Linked DNA regions of Homo sapiens. The protein of the gene in region 3 interacts with the protein of the main gene of each other region in a biochemical or structural test. Each region holds a gene or a part of one and is shown on either strand. Other genes may lie near its edges. The genes, in order: THRB, RXRA and ROBO4.

The links.
Region 1: the proteins of ROBO4 (region 3) and THRB form a complex in vitro, tested with the Homo sapiens proteins (one study listed by BioGRID).
Region 2: the proteins of ROBO4 (region 3) and RXRA form a complex in vitro, tested with the Homo sapiens proteins (one study listed by BioGRID).

What each region holds. Positions count from the first base shown.
Region 1 is NC_000003.12:24,116,613-24,120,928, forward strand, and holds the end of THRB (thyroid hormone receptor beta), read right to left. Parts: 3' UTR 541-4,316; downstream 1-540.
Region 2 is NC_000009.12:134,434,375-134,441,123, reverse strand, and holds the end of RXRA (retinoic acid receptor RXR-alpha), read right to left. Parts: intron 4,658-6,749; coding exon 4,510-4,657; 3' UTR 539-4,509; downstream 1-538. UniProt on the Homo sapiens protein: Receptor for retinoic acid that acts as a transcription factor.
Region 3 is NC_000011.10:124,894,846-124,902,282, reverse strand, and holds the start of ROBO4 (roundabout homolog 4 isoform 1 precursor), read left to right. Parts: upstream 1-4,417; 5' UTR 4,418-4,487; coding exon 4,488-4,557; intron 4,558-5,021; coding exon 5,022-5,351; intron 5,352-5,612; coding exon 5,613-5,770; intron 5,771-5,964; coding exon 5,965-6,085; intron 6,086-6,370; coding exon 6,371-6,498; intron 6,499-6,597; coding exon 6,598-6,826; intron 6,827-7,089; coding exon 7,090-7,202; intron 7,203-7,437.

The DNA.
Region 1 (4,316 bases), on a different chromosome or scaffold from region 3:
CAGTAGTTCTACTAAGTTTTGCTTTGGTTTAGACACCATTTAATGTGTCAGAATTTGTGTACATAAACCTGATGACAATTCCCCTTATTTACAAAGCTATGGTGCCCTGAGTGTCTAAACATAAAAACCAGAGTGAGCTGTCATCTTGAGGGTGGAGAAGCAAACCAACTTTGTCCTCTGGCTTCTCTTCATAGATTATTAGACTTTTCCAGGTTTGTGACATGACAACAGCTTCTGGCTTTGCCTGTGTAAAGGGGTTAAGAATTGTACCTAGCTGGAATATATATGTTCCAGCTCTCCACAATAAATGAATCCAGTAATTTCTTGGAGGAGGGAAATATGTTCATTAGGAGGAAGTTGGGAGGTACATAATGTAGACAAGAGATAAATATATAAAGGTTAATCTTAGTCATTTGAATATAGAGTGGAAAAACTCAGAAAATAGTACTCTGAACTGATCTAGCCTAGGGAAATAATGATGCTTGCCCCATCTTACCTGAACTGGTGTTTTCACGAACCAGGAAGAATGCGATCAAACACTTTCTTTGGAAGGTGTTTATTTGGTTCATGTCCTGGCCAAATAAAAACTTGGAGATGAGCTTCCTCTGTGTGAAGGAGAACCGCTTGCTGTACTGAAATGGGATGTTGTTTTAGATTTACCTTTGGTGTGGGCACTGGTTGCTTTTGCTTGCCCACCATTCTCTTCCACTTATAGCAGCAAGACTTAGAATTTTCTTTCAGGAATCATCTTGCCTCAACTCTCAGTCCATAGTTTAGATGAAGCTGACTGTCCCTCTTTCCCCTCACCCAGTTCCAGGATTCCTGAGGATAAGGTTGGTTATGCATCTGTTTTCCTCACCACAGTGATTGGCTCAGGAATGGGCACATGACTGAACTTGGGCCAGTGAGAATTAGGCCAGAATTTTCATTAGAATTGTTGGAGAAAAGAAATTCTCCTTTCACTATATTTGGAGCTGTAAAGCTCATCCTGGAGCTATTGGAGGCCACCGTAAGGTGAAAGGCCATGTGAATGTTAAGTCTACATGAATGACAAAAAAAGGAGCTTCCTGAGAATACTGAGTAAGTGCACCCAGATCCAGCCATGCCTGAAGCTTTGGTATGCAATACCCTAGATCCCAGATATTAAAGTCAATAATTAGCTTTCTGCTTAAGCCAGTTTGAGTTAGCTTTTTGTTACTTGTCATAGAAAGAATCTCAATTAACATGTGTTCAGGGCAACAGAGATTGAGATATATGTTGGCAGCTGATGTTAACATAATTCCATTAGTAATATTCCTGAATAATTTGAGATGAGAAGATGAATGTTGTCCTTGAGCTGCAAAACTTCACCTCTCTCCTCCCTTCATCTTTGTGGCCCCTTCCAAAGAGGTAACCCCCCATCAGCATTTTACTTAGTTTCTTCTCTCCCTCCATAGTTTCTTCTCAAGTAAATTTGCTTATTCTAGTAGATGTTTATTTATGAAATAAATGTCCTTACATCCGTGGTTCCGTCTTTTGGCAGCAGCTGAAGTGAGAAGAGCAGGCAACTCTTTGCCTATGTAGAAAATAATAATATTTAAAGAAAGAGACAGGAAAATATATCTGTTATAAGCTTTTTCTTTTTTAGAATTTAAGCTTATGAGTTTATCTACGCCCACTATATTCATAATTACAGTTTTATATCTGCATACAAAAGCTATGTAAAAATCCATTTTTCCCAAATATACAAATTTTTTTTGGATAGTTTAAAACATTTTGATCACAGATTTCAACAGAGTTTTAGGCTGAAAAAAATATCACCATCTAGCAATATCACTTAACACTGTTTGCAAAACACAAATCTTCCAATGACTGTAAATCTTTTTCTATTCTGTAGTATTTTTCTGATTCTCAGGGCATGAAAACATTATGGGAAAAAAAAGGATTTTCTACGAAGAAAGCATGGAGAACTAATTTGGCTCTATGGTCAAATTAAAAATGCCAAGTTAATAAGGGAGAACCAAAAGAAAGAAGTGGCATAATGTCACATCAGCTCATTCATGCCCTGATAATTTCTGTATCAACAATACATATGTAAAGTGTCTCCTTTTGTCTTACATTGTGCTCCATAATTTACATGAGTATTATCTGCATCCTGAGGAGGACAGATTTATATTTGATTGTCTTGTGCATAGGGTGGGTCAGCTTTAACTGTGCAACAGAAAGCCACAAACAGCGTTTTACCTGCACAATATTGCTCTTGAAGGCGGCATTAATTAATGTGGAAACACACTATAAATGCACACTTTTCGCATTTGCAAACATTTATACAGCACAGTAAAAATTCTGTGATAAGGCCAAACCTTTTTTCCCCCAGTCTGGTTTTTTTTTTTTTTTTTTTTTTTTTTTTTTGAGTGTGTTTTTAATGCATTTTTTTTAAAGATTAAAGTAAAATGTCTCAATTGTAAAAAATACACACCGGGCAAATCCTTACCTGGATAATAAATATCTACATCACAGTACAATAAAATTTCTTCTCTATAAAATTTAAATATGGATTATAGTCTATCACTATCAAAAGAAACACTATGCTAATATTTCCATATTATTAAAATAACAGGAAAAATTACGAGCTTATTTTAGAACCTGATGCCATAGCCGTTGGAAAGGGCAAAGAGATTCAAATGTCGATCATCACTCTCCATTTGAGGAGGAACTGTGGCTTGGTTATTCACTTAAATTCAGTTCATGAAAAAGGTTTAGCCTTACAAATGCTGGCTACATTTCAAAAACTGTAAGACTGATTTCATAATTTATGACTCATGCAGCAAAAGGTCAATATGACACGAATAGGTTAGAGTTCCATAGAATAAAAAGGTATCACTGACAATGACATGCTTCAAGGGTGCTCAGCGGTTCCTTGGAGGCTGAGTCTGTGGGGGGCTTAGTGTCGAGGAGGGGCCAGGGCTTGTACCCCTGTTCATGGAGGAGCAACAAGAACGGCGTTGCTGGCACAGAGCGAAGGCCTGGCAGTCCACCCCAGGCCTGCACTGCACACTGAAGAGCTGTCGCCCGGGGCACAGGTGAGGGGCTTCGCTGGGCTGAGGCATCAACAGGTCAAGCGCGTCATTGAGGACCGAGGCTCTAGAAAAAGCTCTGAGGCGGCACGTGGTGTTTTGAGCAGAATCATAAAGAAGAAAACATCTTACTTTTTTCATTGTTTCTGGAAATACTGCACGTCTAAATTGAGCAAAGTACACTTGAGGGTCACACACGCACGCGCATACACTCACACGCACACACGCCCCACACCGCTCATCCCTAAAAGGGAAGTGATTTATAAATACAAATCCCAGCATAATGGGTGTGTTCTCCTCTACTGAGACGTCTCCCTGCCGAGGGGGTGGGAGCGCAGGTGTGAAGGGTATCTCCATCAGGTCCACACTGGATTTGCAAGTCTGGACAATAGATGAAAAAATGTTTAGAAAAATCTAGAGCAAATCCCTCACAAATGAGTTTTATGAGATGGAGTCTTGAGATGCACTAAGTACCTCTGTCAGCTTCAGAAGGAAGGAGTTTAGTTTCAGAGTCATTATCTTTTGAGTCCTATGGCCTTTCCTTTCAACCTGAAGGTGGGCTAAGGCTTGTCCTACTCCGCATGAAGTATTCAGCCTTCAACGAGATTTCCAGACCAGCAGTTTGCCTATTGAAGGCAATCAATCATTTAAGGTGCCAAGGATCAAACGTTCCTTTACTTGCGGCTGGCTGGATGGCTGTTTATATGCCATACTATTTGGCCAATTCTCGATCATGGTTAGTCCCCAAAGCATTCTGATTTAGCTTGAGATCAGGCTCTGAACTTATATTCAAATCTGGGTGTCTGATGTACTGAGGACCCTGTCAAACAAAATGAGGAAACTTTCCCCAGAAGGCCTGACGCTGCAGGACCCTGCCTGCTTGCCTTCCTCTCATTCCCTTTGGAAAGAAAGCTTGCCCCAGACAGCAGAGCTTCTCAGGGTTACCCTGGAGCACAGAGGTGGCTAAGTGTTTGTCTTCCAAAGAGCGGTTGGTTCCTCAAGGAGTCAAGAGAGGAAGCTGAAATATTAGCAGAGCAAGCAATTAAGGAGCCTGGCCAGAGGCTGCCTAGACAAAACCAAACCCCAAAACAATCTGTCTGTAGATAAAGCAGGTAATCTGCCAATGAATTTCGTGCTTATAATTGTAAATCTTTTCACTTCCTTTCTCTGGGTAACAAGTTCCATAGCAATGTTCTTGTTTCCTTTTTCCCAGAAGCCAGTACAATTGCTTTCATGCATTGAATATTTAATTCCCCGCTC
Region 2 (6,749 bases), on a different chromosome or scaffold from region 3:
GGTGCCTCTCGGGGAGGGTGCCTGGCTGGACACAGGTGCATGAGAGGGCTCCGGGCACGAAGACCAAACCAGGCCGGGAGCAGCCCAGCCCCAGACAGCATGGAGACAGAGGGCGTTTATCACAGGAGACAATGCAGATGGGGCATCATTAACTTGTTGTTATTGGGGCAGCTGGGTGACATCGTGTGTTCCTTGGCCCTCTGGGTGCACCTCCTGCCCATCTGGGCCAGCGTGGCTGCAGAGGCGTGGATGCTTAGGCAGCCTGGGGAGGGACAGGTGGGAACACTCGTGCTCCGCAGGCGCCCACAGGCCCAGTGCCCACGGCTGCTGAGAGGTGCCCTCACGGAGGCCCCAGCCCCCTGCCCCTTGGAGGAGCAGCAGAGCCCAGTGGACAGGGAGAGAACTCTCAAGAGTATGGCCCACAGAGGATGCCAGCCTCGCCGCACAGGACCGGCAGGTAGGGTGGACAGGAGGGTGGGCTGGTGGGGGCTGATCGCGGGCCCTCCCGCTCCAAACAAAAAAGTCCCCACACGGAACAAACGAACTGAATGGCGATGTATTTTAAACGCTCATATTTTGTTTCTCCTCTCACACTTCTCCCTTTGCGTGTTCCTTTTCCACAATTCTAATGCTACTGTCCATCAAACCCTGGCACCTGAGGCCACGATGTTTCAGAGACAATCGTACGGAGAAGCCACTTCACAGTCAGTCACAGGAAGGCCAGAGCCGGCAACAGGACACAACAGAGCAAGGCTTTAAAAATTACTCGAAAGGGAAGAAAACCCTTGAAAGCCTCAGGCCCACCCTCCTGCCCCGAGGGAAGACACCCCCATTGCGGCGGTTTCCTCCCAAGCCTCGCCGCCGTCACAGGAGCCCTCTCCTCTGCCATCGTCTGTCCTGGCGTTTCTCGGACGAAGCTTTCACCTCAATCTCTAGAAGCAGAAACGAAACAGTCCCAGCCCTCCCCCCGCCATATCCAAGTATACATGAGGGATAAAATTACATTTGTACAAAAATAGATTTTTTTTTTTTACCTTTCCAGATGCTTTAGACATTTTCTCTTATCTTTACTCTCTTTATGGATCTGTCATCCTCTCTAAAGTATTAGCTATGCGTCCCAGCTAAGGCATTGCTAAGGATTGGGAACGGCTAAAGCTGTCTGCTCCAAAGCATCTTAAAATAGATGCATCTCCTGCCTTGAGATATTCATTCGAACCCGGATTTCACCAAAGGAGGGTCCTTATGTACTTGCTTACACGAAGCAAATTTATAGGAAAACAGGGGAAACGTCTTGATTAAAAATAAACACAAAACACTGGTAACCGCTCCGCCTTTCCTGGGTGGCGCTGGTGTGCGGCTCTCTCCACACGCGTCTCTCTGTACAGCACATACATGTTTACACCACACACCTGCGTGGACGAGCACCAGATCACGCACCCCAGCTCCACGACAGGGACACCAGCCGACTACCCACAGGCTGCACATTCCGGCAGGGCCCTCCTGGGTGCCCCACGGGGAGGGGCTCGGGGTCATCTCCAGCACTGCCACCAGGCCGCCAGCCCAGAATTCTTGGGAAACACCGTGCTCGGAAAACCGAAGGTCAGGGCTGTCCTTCCCAGAGGCCGTGTGCTTCCAGGGTGCGGAGGGCCGGCGGCTGACACAGGCCCCAGGGTGGAAGGTCCTGGCAGGCCAGCTTCCAAGCATGCCCGACGCAGCCTAGGGGAGCCCGGCTCTGTGGCATCTTCACTCCTGAGCCTCAGGAGCCCCATCTGAACGGCAAAGCCGGGAGGTGACCAGCTGAGGAGCGTGCCTGAAGGTGCCGGGGTGCCCTGGGTCCCCAGGAAGCAGCCACTGGGAAGTGGGGGCCCTGCGGGGAAGCCGCTTCATCCAGCCGGGCCAAGGCGGGGACAGGCACAGGTGGCTAATGAGCTGATGTTAGTGCTATCTTTAGAAAATTAAAGATTGTCCCACCAAAATAATAATAATTACAAAAAATCACCTTAATTGAACTGGATTGGTAATACTACTACAGGTCTGGTTAAATAGAAATTCTACCTCTCTACTCAGTGATGAGCCGCACTCCCCACACATCACCTTTTCAAACCAACAGCACTGTACAACTACAAGGCCGATGAGAAAGGGACGGGAAGGCTGCGGGAAGTGCCCGGGACACGTAGAGCGGTGGGTAAGGCTGCTGTGGCCAGGGAGGCCAGGTTCTGCTTTCAGGGGTTGGCGGCCGGGGGGCTTCAGTGCTTTACAGCCAGCCAGCCAGCCAGCCAGCGCCGGAAACGACAAAGTTCCCAAGAAGCAGCCGACCCCCCGCAACGGAGGCCCCGTCCCTGGGCTTTTTCCTCTGGAGCCGCGGGCATTCCCAAGGGTCCGGGCACGGATGGGTGGGCGCTGGCTGCAGAAGGCACCAGGTGTTGGCGTTGGGTCTTTTGCACTCCCACCGCTGGGGCCCCAAGAGTACCTGCACCCTCCTGCCATTTCCACCACACCCGCCAGGGGCAGCTGGGGCTTCCTGGCAGTGCCTGGGAGGGGCCCAGCTGGCCGGGGACCTGGTACAGGTATGAGGCTCAACACTCTGCCTCAGGACGGTGGATCGGGCAGGGGGCCACCTCTAGGGATCCACAACGCTGAAAGGCAGGGGTGGAGGGCGGCGGGGAGGAGAGGCTTCTGGAATCTCTGACAGCCTGTCTCGGGCACAGACTCAGCTGCAGGCTCCACTCGGGTGCCTAAGCTCAGCTCTGGCTGGGAGCTCCAGGAAGGCAAAGAATGGACACTTTCTTCCCCACCAAGGCTGGAAAGCTGCCTCTCCAAGCCACTGCCTCCCGGTCCAACCTGTAGGCAGCTCCCCTCACCACTGAGGAAGCCCCTGCTCCAGGTGGGGAAAGACTATGGAGAAGGCGTCCACCCCCCCGCATCATTCCTAGACTGCGGCTGGGAAGACAAGACCCCCTCCGGTATCCCCCCCATCCACCCTCTGTTCAGGCACCTGCCACTGACAAAGGCTGGGTCCACGGGACTGAGGCGTGAACGGGAAAAGTACTCAGGCCAAAGGGAGGGCCTTCCAGTGCAAAAGAGGCGAGTTCAACCTGAGAGGGCCCCGCACCACCGGAGCCCGGGGGCAGAGCCTGCGGGAGGAGCGCCAGGCCGCACTGGGCTGAGCCAGGGAGGCCCCAAGCCCCGCCCCCACCCCACCTTCAACCAGAGCAGGCGTTCAGTGAGGCTCCCAAGTAAGGCTCTGGGTGAACAACGCTGTCCGTGGACAATACCAGGCTGGGTGGTCCCACCAGGGCCTGCGTGTGGCCCAGGCCCGAGGGCGCTGCGACTCCGGGTTCTCAGATTCCAAGAGTCTTTTAGACACAACTGGCAGCCAGAGAGAAGGCCTGAGCAGGGGTCCCACCAATGCCCCGGCAGAGCCACTCCAGGCCGCGGAGCATCTGCCCCACCCACGAGGCTCCCAGTTCCTGAGCCCCTCTCTCTCCAGGCCACCTGCCCCCTCTGAGGGAAACCAACAGGCCACCCTCCTCCCCTCCCATCCCCGCGGGCCTCACAGATGGCTGCAGGTCCGCAGAGCCCTGTGCCTCCAGCAAGGCCAGTGAGGTGGTGATGCCCCACCCTGCCCGAGCCAGGGCCAGCCCTGCAGGAAACAAGGACAAGCCTCAGCCCACCCCGCAGAGCAAGGAGAAGACTCAGGCTGGGGAGGGGCCGGGGCACTCTGGTCTGAACGGGGAGTCGGGAGTCTGAAACCAGAACACCAAGGCAGAGAGAAAACAGGGGGGTGAGTGACCCGCCCCTGCAGCCTGGAGGTGGCCCCGAAACCTTGCACAGAGGGCAGCTCATGTTCTCATTGGCTCGAGGGCAAAACTGTGAGTTATCTTTGGAAAAAGGGGCTACCTTCCCCCTCACTCAGAGCACAGGGCAGCTTGCTTGCCCCACGAGTCCCCTCTCATCCCCGAGGCGGCTGAGGTCTTTGCTGATGACACACCAGCTTGCGCCCCCAGCTGTCCCCTCCTGATTAGGGGGAAGCTGTCACGGGCTGGCTGGGCACCAGTATTCAGAGCAGATGAAGATGTCACTCCAGACAGGAGGGCCACACAGGAATTCTGAAAACCAGCATCGATAAACAGCAACGGAAACAAAAGCCCCGTTCCCAACTCCTGCAGCTCCAGGGCTGGGGCCCGAAGACCCTGTAGTCGCCCAAGCCCCGTGGGGTGTGGCAGGGTGTCCTGAGAGCCCGGTGGGGAGGCGCCTGGCTGGGCTCACGCTAGTTCTTGCCACGAAGGCTGCTGCCTCAGGAAAGCCACTGCCCTGGGCCACAGACAAGTAGTAACAGAAATAAGGAGGGTGACAACACATCTCTTAGGCAGAGCAGTGACAGGCTGTGCCCCAAAGTCCAAACAGGCCAGGCAGAGAAGGGCAGGGACAGGGCTCAGGCTGAGAAGAACAGCTGGCGTCCAGGCAGGGTGGCCAGAACGGGTGGGCACAAAGGATGGGCCCGCAGGCCTAAGTCATTTGGTGCGGCGCCTCCAGCATCTCCATAAGGAAGGTGTCAATGGGTGTGTCCCCGATGAGCTTGAAGAAGAAGAGATGTTCCAGGCATTTGAGCCCGATGGAGCGCAGAGCCGGCAGGCGGAGCAAGAGCTTAGCGAACCTGCAGGGAACAGGTCTGGTGAGGGCCGGGCAAGGGGCATGGGCAGTTCTGCCCTGGCACTGGAGGCCTCCCTGGGGATGGGGCTGTGTCTGATACCCCAACCCCTCTGAGGCTGGTCTGTAGCCCTGAATCTGCCTATGCCAAGCCTCCAGAAGGAAGGAGGGGAGGCTAGAAGGAAACAGAGGCAGTGGCAACCCAGAGCCAGGACAGAGTGAAGGGAGATCCCTGGGTCTGAGGACGGAGATGAAGGGCCAGGGGCCAGACAGCAGCTGGCTAGGGCAGACTGAATAGCTCTTTGTGAAGAAGTTAAAAATTGCAGGCAGTTGGGCATGATGGCTCACACTTGTAATCTCAGCACTTTGAGAGGCCGAGGTGGGAGGATGGCTTGAGGCCAGGAGTTCGAGACCAGCCTGGGCAACGCAGTGAGACCCTGTCTCTACAAAAGAAAAAGAGAAAAACAGTAGCAAGGCGTGGTGGTGCATGCCTGCAGGGAGGACCGCTTGAGCCCAGGAGGTTGAGGCTGCAATGAGCTACGATCGCAGCACTGCACTCCAGCCTGGGCGACACAGCCAGACTGTCTCTCAAAAAATGAAAAACTGTGGGCCATGACAGCCGGGAGCGGGTGTGAGTATCAGTAATGCATCTGGCTGCAGCAGCCATCACAGCAAGAGACTGCGGGGCTTGTAAGGGAAAGGGCTGCTGAGCACACTGGTGAGTCGCAGGGAACAGGCCCGGCACATGGTGGGCAACCAAGAAGTCAAAGAGCATCAGGCGGGGGAGGGGGAGTCAGGCTGCACCCCCACTGCAGGTGGAGCCAGGCCTGACTTGGGAGCTGTGTAACGGTGCAAGACCCTTTCCATAAAGCATCAGCACCCCATGAGTGCCTCCCACGGCACCTTGTGCAGGGCTGTGGGCCCCAGACCAGGGCCACCCCTTCCTCAGAAATAGCTCTGCTGGCATTGGGCACAGCATGGTCAGAGAAGGCTGGCCGGGGAGGGAGGGAGCACGGGTTGGTCCTCAGGGCCTGGCCCATCCCTGGGGAGTTTCCTGGGGCAGGGACCAGTGGGGGGGCGGGAGGGAGGGGGGAAGTCTGGGGCTCTGGGAAGAGGGATAGCAGGGCCAGGCATGAGGGCAGCAGCTGCCGCTGAGGACAGGGTGCTATGGGGACGGAACCAGGTGTCCCTTCCGGCTGGCCGTGTCTGCCCAGGGCCCCTGTGCACGGCCTGAGTCTCTCCACACGGCCCCTCCAGGGGCTGCAGGACCTCATTAATTATTAACGAAGTCTTTCTTTCAGGGAAAAGCTCTGTGGTTGGCTGCCTCACAGGCCTTGTTTTAAAGGCAAAAACAGCGCAGAGGCTGGAGTTGGGCCAGAGAACAAGCTGTTTTCTGCTGAGCTGGCGAGATGGGCCAGGGCAGAAAGCCAGGAAAAACAAGCTGCCTGCCACCCCCTCCTGTCCTCGTCCTCCGGGAAGTTTCACTTTAAACCAAGCCAGATGAGGGCTGGGCAGGCAGCGGGGACACGGTTAACTGTGTATGTGCTGGTGGCGGGAAGGCCTGGGTGTCCTATGAGGTCTGCTGGGCCCCACCTCCCCCGACCCCCTCCCCGCCCCACAGTCTGAGGATCAAGAGGCCAGGAGATGCCCCTTTAGAGAGAAGAGGCAGAATCTGGAGCGCTGACTTTGAATCCCAGGCAGGGATCCACAAACGTTTCTCTTCCTGGACACCTACTGTGCACCCAGCACTGTGGACTCAGAAATGAGGGAGCCCCAGCCCTTCCAGGGCCCACAGCCGGGCAGGGGGGAAACATGAGCGCTACGCTCAGGCCGTGACCGCCTATTCCGTACACACTTGTAGAGAGTGTTTAGTATGTGTGGGCATCTGGCCATCCATTCTACACATGCTTGTGAAGTACCTACTATGTGCTGGTGTCGCCTGGCCTCTGGTGGTTCTGCTTGGTAGGGGAGCGCAGTGGGGGGTGAAGCACAGCCTTCATCTATCTACTGAACAAAGAGAAGCACCTACTATGCGCCAGGTGCAAGGTAATCCTTCCAGTGGGGATACGACGTGGGCCTGTGGGGTGTGCCCGCCACAG
Region 3 (7,437 bases):
AAAAATTAAGAAGTCCACCAACTGCTCTGAGGACGTGGCTCAAGGACATTGGTACAATTGACTCGGGAAACATCTGCTAATTTCATCAAAAGTGGAATATTTGTACATCTCAAGACCTAGGTATTCTACTCCTAGGTTTATTTTCTAGAGAAACTCTTAACTGGTTATACTAGGGGATATATAAAATAGAGATTCAGAGCAGCACTGTTTATAATAGAAAAAGAACCACTTGATATACTACATATTCAAGAAAAAGACCCACTTGATATACTACAAAGACACTCCTCTGCAAAGAATCATTGCATGTCCTTTCTTCCCAACAGCACCCAATTTTGAGTGAAGCCTCACTTCCCTGGACCCTCCACGAAATCACCCAATCAAAGCCCAAATCCTAGAATAGGTTCTTTCTAACATCTCTCTTACTTAGACATTCCATAGTTCTCCATGGCATGCACTCTCTCAAGCTGCAAGAAGTAAATCAACTTGTTCAACAATAGGTATGTTCCTGATGGTCTTTGACTGGAGGGCATTGACAGGGTGAACACAAAGCACAGTAACAGATCTCCCCTTCTTCCTGGACATGTGAGCAAATGGTTAAATATTGATGTCAGCAGCCCTTGAAATCTCCAACTGGGCAATGTTTAAGCTAGGTGTGATCCATAGTCATTGGTGTCGAGAAAGTTAAGAAAATGTAGGGTTGAGAGTATTCGATGTGATTTTAGATTCCAAGCACCTAAAATCACCCATGATGTTGATGGGACCAGAAACTAGGGAATAGATGCTGTCCAGTGAAGTGGCCTTAGGGTGAGTTTTCCAGCCAGCTAAGAGGAGGTTTTTACTGTCTTCTCTCTTGACTCAATTTCCCTCCAGCTGTTGGCATCTTGGAACAAACTTGAGAATTTATAGATTGAGACCAAGCAGACTCAAGCAAAAAAGGGGAAAAAACAAGAAGGCAAAAAGTGTGAGTCTCAAATCCAAAAAGAGTATCAAGGGGTAGCTGGGACTGGCTATGGCTGTGTTGGTCAGGCATGCTGATCCCAGAACACTCAAAGGACAACTAACACATATCTAGTGTTTTCAGAGAACTTTCATGTCCATTGTCTGTAAACCTCATGCAGACATTTTACAAATGAGGGCAGTGGGACTCAGAGAGGTTATGTGACTTACTCAAGATTTCTCTGCCAATAAGAAGTGGAAGCAGGATCTCAACCCCAGTGTAACTGACTCCAAATCCCACCTGAGTTTATCCCTTTTTCTCCACCAGCTTGGCCAGCAGGAGTCTCAGATTGCATCTTCAGAGATCACAGAGCAGAAAGCCAAAGAAGCCAGGAGCCAGACATTGAAGAGAAATTTCCTCTGGAGGCTTGCTCAGAAGGGCACCTGGTGCTTCCCCTCTCTTCTCCCTCTTACAAGCAACGAAGGGGGAGTTAGAAAACACAAAACACCAGAACTAGGGATGAAGGAAGGCACTGCTTAAACTGGTCACCAGGACAGCACATCACCAGAGCCCCAGAACAGAGCTTCTCTGAAATAGCAATTGGGGCGGCTCCCACCAAGCCACATCATCCCCATGACTCATGCAGTCGGCTCTTCCTTAGTTTGTGGAAATGAGACAATGAGGATGCGGATGCACCAGGTTGCTGGAAATGAGCCCTGCAGTCTCTGGGAGCCATCCAGACATACCCTACTGTTGGGAAGTCCCCTCGGCCACCACCGCATGTCACTCTGAGTGCCCTGGAGAAAAAGTTCTAGTGTCCTGCAGGAACAACTGAGGAATCTGCCCCTCCAATCACCTTCAGGTGTTAGCACCTAGCTCTCCAAAACCTGGGAGTAGGGTGAGGCTCTGCTGAAGGTGATCTCCAGGCACGGGGCATGTGACTGTGGGGCAGGGGACATTCCTCGGGCTGCAGGAGCCTCTGGGGCTCTGTCCCTGCGGTGCACACAGACCGTTTCACCTCTCCTTTCTCACCCTGCTGAGGACGGGGCTAGTGATGGATTGGAATTCCTTTGAGATTTGCCTTATTTTCCCCTGAGGGAAACCTAGCGTCTTTCTGGATTGTGGAGACTGGAGTAAAATCCAGTTGGCATTAAAACATTAGCGAGCACTTAATTAGTGTCCCCAAAACCAATGTAGAAGCAGAGGAGACTAAAAGCAGACTGCTGACAGTGACATTCTTGATAAGCTGATAGTCAGGGAGTCAGACAGTCTTGGAGGCTTTGTACCTGGGAAATCCCAAATTGGCCTCCTGTGCAGTAAATCCTCCAATCCCACCACATCCTTTCCTGTCTCATCCTCAGCTGACTTCAGTGTCACATGAATCTCCCCTTCATCACTCTGGCCCCACAGATCCTTGACCCCATAAACTCGACTCCATTCTGCCTGCCCCACAATAAATACACGTTAGCTCAGCTTTACGGATCACTCATAATGCATCAGGCACTGGATGCCAGTGGTTTTATGCTTTATGTATTTCATCATTACTTTATCCCTCAAGGTAGGAACTACTATTACTATTTCCATTTTACAGAGAACTACTATTACTATTTCCATTTTACAGATTTGCCCAAGGTCTCCACAGAAGCTGATTTCATCCATCTCTGAGCTGAATATGGACACATCCTGTGGGAATCTCCCAGCTTATCCCAGACGCTCTGAGTCCTTCTTGTCTCCCACCCTACTCCACCTAGTGGTCCATCTGCCCCTGGGGAAATGGACCAGGGCGTTACAATCCACCCCTGCTCCACTTCACTCAGCCTCTCCAGCCTGCAGCCCCACTGCCCTCTGTCCTCAGCTTCTTGCTGTGTCCTGAGACTCCCGGGGTTTTCATTCCTCTCTAGCAGGTGGTAAAGGGATAAGGATTGGGATCCAGGGATAAGATTTAAATAGAGGATTAAGGCTCTGATTGGAGTTATGGTTAGTGTAAGGATACACCCACAGAATTTGGGGTAGGAATTGGGGCCAGAGAACAGAATTTGGGATTTCAGAATTAGAGGTGCCAAGGGTAGTGACATTCTGTTCTCTGGCCCCAATTCCTATCCTTCCAGCTCTGCCACTCCATGACTTTCACTCTGCCTATTCTTTAGCCTCTGCAAACTCCCCAGTTTGTAGAGACCATGGTGTTTCCTTGCTCCAGTTCTGTCTTTGTCAGTATTGGTCTGAGTTTGAGAGGAAAGAGGAGGAGTGAAGGAGACTTCTACTTGGCAGGCTGTTAGTCTGTGGCTGGCACCGAAGCCAGGATGGGAAGGGGGAGGAAGGGAGGGCGTCAGCTGGGTTAGGGGCCCTGCAGAGAAGCTGGCCAGGAACAATTGGGAACAAAGGCTGGATACTCTTCCGCTGAGCCCCAGAGCCTGGCCTTGGCCTTCCGGGAACAGCTCCAGGAAATGGCTGAGATTCCAGATTTGGAAGGAAGAGGCCAGTAAACATGAGCTGGGATCTGACAGGGGAGTGTGGCCTCTGTCTAGGTTGTGGGGGAAAGGAGGCAGCGGGCAAGAGCTGACATTGTAGGCTCAAAACCTGCAAGGCCTGTCTGCTACATATATGGACACAGGCTCTTGGGACTGGAAAGACTCTTAAAAGGTCTTTTACTCCAACCACCTTTCCAGGGCCTGAAAAATACTCCTGCCGAGGATCCTCCAATAGTTTCAGTGATGGGATGGGCCTAAAAAGAAATACACAATGTTGGCTCAGCTTTACGGATCACTCATAATGAGTCAGGCACTGGATGCCAGTGGTTTTATGCTTTATGTGTTTCATCATTACTTTATCCCTCAAGGTAGGAACTACTATTATTATTTCCATTTTACAGAGAAGGAAACTGACTTGCCCAAGTTCTCCACAGAAGCTTATTTCATCCATCTCTGAGCTGAATATGGACACACCCTGTGGTAATCTCCCAGCTTGTCCCAGATGCTGAGTCCTTCCTGTCTCCCACCCTACGCCACCTCCTGGTCCATCTGGCACTGGGGAAATGGATGAGGGTGTTACAATCCACCCCTGCTCCACTTCACTCAGCCTCCCCAGCCTGCAGCCCCACTGCCCTCTGTCTTCAGCTTCTTGCTGTGTCCTGAGACTCCTGGGGTTTTCACTCTTCTCTAGCAGGTGTCAAAGGGATAAGGATTGGGATCCAGGGATAAGATTTAAATAGAGGATTAAGGCTCTGATCGGAGTTTTGGTTAGTGTAAGGATACCCTGTAAGAAATCCCCGAGTAGATCATGAGATAAAGCTTAGCGCTGAAGTTAGGGTCGGGGGTTATAGCTAAATGGTCGAGGTCAGAGAGTTTCTCGCCTCTGGTCTCCTCCCAGTTCTCCAAGGCACTGAGGGCCAGGCAGGAAGCATCGGTTTCCTCAAAGCCGCTTCCCTCCTGGGGCAGAGTCTCGGTCACAAACAACCACCACCGGCCCACCCCGCCCCTCCTTCCCTCTTCACTGTGAGCTCAGAGCAGCAGGACAAAGTGCTCGGGACAAGGACATAGGGCTGAGAGTAGCCATGGGCTCTGGAGGAGACAGCCTCCTGGGGGGCAGGGGTTCCCTGCCTCTGCTGCTCCTGCTCATCATGGGTGAGTTGCTCTCCCTCTCCTGGCCCATGCTCCTCCATCCAAGGCCTGCTCAGGGCAGAAGGGGCCTGCTGACTGCCTGCTTCCCTTTTGCAGTGGGGGGACCAGAGATGAGGATGAGGATGATGATGATGAGTGTGTGTAAGTGTATGTGTGTTTGTGCATGTGCGCACACACCAGAGAGAGAAAGAAGGAAAGAGAGACTGAGAGAGAAAGAAAGAAAGAGAGAAAGTAAGAGAGAGAGAGAGAGAGAGAGAGCGAACATGCTATGCAAGCCCTGGCCTGGATGCTGTGCATGCTGGCCCTCTCTCCTCCTAGCTGGCTTGTTCTTTGGGAGGCAACCTTTAGTAGTTCAGATTACAGGTTTTCTGGCAAACTCGCACACAAGAGAAGACAGATGAGGGGTGGGCCAGGAATTTGGGGTGTTGCTGGTGATCAGACTGGGCTCTGCTCCCTTTCCCTCCCAGGAGGCATGGCTCAGGACTCCCCGCCCCAGATCCTAGTCCACCCCCAGGACCAGCTGTTCCAGGGCCCTGGCCCTGCCAGGATGAGCTGCCAAGCCTCAGGCCAGCCACCTCCCACCATCCGCTGGTTGCTGAATGGGCAGCCCCTGAGCATGGTGCCCCCAGACCCACACCACCTCCTGCCTGATGGGACCCTTCTGCTGCTACAGCCCCCTGCCCGGGGACATGCCCACGATGGCCAGGCCCTGTCCACAGACCTGGGTGTCTACACATGTGAGGCCAGCAACCGGCTTGGCACGGCAGTCAGCAGAGGCGCTCGGCTGTCTGTGGCTGGTGAGGCCTGGGAGGGGAGCTTCAGGGTGGGGCAAACCTGGGTGGAGACATCTGAGCTGAATGTTCAAGGGAACATCTGAGAGGTCAGTGGGATACCTGTGAGCAGAGGCCTGGGCTGGAAGGCTTGGGAGGGCAAGCTGGGGCGGGGCTGGCCCTAAATGGGAGGCCAGGAAGGTGGGCAAAGCAGAAGGGGGCAAGAGTGATAAGGGAGAGAGAAGAGGCCTGGGCCCTGCTCCGTGTCACCTTCCATCCTCCCCACAGTCCTCCGGGAGGATTTCCAGATCCAGCCTCGGGACATGGTGGCTGTGGTGGGTGAGCAGTTTACTCTGGAATGTGGGCCGCCCTGGGGCCACCCAGAGCCCACAGTCTCATGGTGGAAAGATGGGAAACCCCTGGCCCTCCAGCCCGGAAGGCACACAGTAAGTGTGGCCCCCTCCCCCACACTTCATCCTGGCCTGGGCAGACCTGGGTACACCCTGATGGACTGACCTGCCGTCCAGCCCCGCATCCTCCGGTAGAATTTGAGGAGGGGAGAGCAGGGGGCCTCAAACTTCCCCCCAGCTCAGAGCCCCTCCCCACATAGGAGACTTCACAGTGAACCTGGCCCTGACAGGTGTCCGGGGGGTCCCTGCTGATGGCAAGAGCAGAGAAGAGTGACGAAGGGACCTACATGTGTGTGGCCACCAACAGCGCAGGACATAGGGAGAGCCGCGCAGCCCGGGTTTCCATCCAGGGTAAGGGCAGGGGTGGGCTACAATCAGAGCCAGGCTGCAGGCTCCAGTTGGGGTGGTGTATTCTGGTTTGGGCTGGGGTTAAGGTATGTGGGGTCAGGGTCAAAGTGCTGGGGGTCTCACGTAGCGGGAGGTTCCCCCCTGCTAGAGTAGAAATCGGAATGCTCAAGACCTGGAGACTCTGGGAGTTTGGGTTCCCTGGGGTTCCTCCCTGGCTGAGGGATGTTCCACGCCTCAGTTCTGTCACTCTGGCCTATAAGCCCCAGCCCAGCCCTATCCTCCCCACAGAGCCCCAGGACTACACGGAGCCTGTGGAGCTTCTGGCTGTGCGAATTCAGCTGGAAAATGTGACACTGCTGAACCCGGATCCTGCAGAGGGCCCCAAGCCTAGACCGGCGGTGTGGCTCAGCTGGAAGGTGAGGACCAGGTGCTAAGGGTAAAAGCCGATCCAGAGCTCAAGAAAGGGCGTTCCTGAGCTCTCTGACCCCCCGCCCTTCCTCGAAACTCCTTCCCAGGTCAGTGGCCCTGCTGCGCCTGCCCAATCTTACACGGCCTTGTTCAGGACCCAGACTGCCCCGGGAGGCCAGGGAGCTCCGTGGGCAGAGGAGCTGCTGGCCGGCTGGCAGAGCGCAGAGCTTGGAGGCCTCCACTGGGGCCAAGACTACGAGTTCAAAGTGAGACCATCCTCTGGCCGGGCTCGAGGCCCTGACAGCAACGTGCTGCTCCTGAGGCTGCCGGAAAAAGGTCAGGGCCTGATCCCTTCAGAAGCCAACAATATCCCCTCTGGCTCCTTCTTATTTGGGGGCCCCTGGACTGTTCTGCTTCAGTCTTGAGGGGAGATTATGGGTCCTACCCTGGGACTCCCTTCTGCCCTGGCCAGGCCAGCAGAGCTTCAAGAGGCTTCTTGTCTCTTCAGTAGGGTTCTGACGCTGTGTCCCCCAGCCCAGCTCCTTTCCCTAGAGTCCTCTCCCTCAGAGCCCCTCATAGTCTCTCTTCCACCCCTCCAGTGCCCAGTGCCCCACCTCAGGAAGTGACTCTAAAGCCTGGCAATGGCACTGTCTTTGTGAGCTGGGTCCCACCACCTGCTGAAAACCACAATGGCATCATCCGTGGCTACCAGGTACCCCCACTAGCTGTCATAGCCCTTCCTACTGCTGCCAGGACATCTCTTTTCTCTGGAGTTCTGCATACCCTTGCTCTGGGCACTGAGAAAGGTACCTGGGCAGAGAAGCAAAGGAAACCTGCTTTTGCTGAGCAAGGACCCACTGGCTTCCAGACCCTGCCAAGCACTTGACCTCCATGATCCCGTTTTACCTCACAGTCCACCCTGGGGTATTATCCCCAATTTACAGACA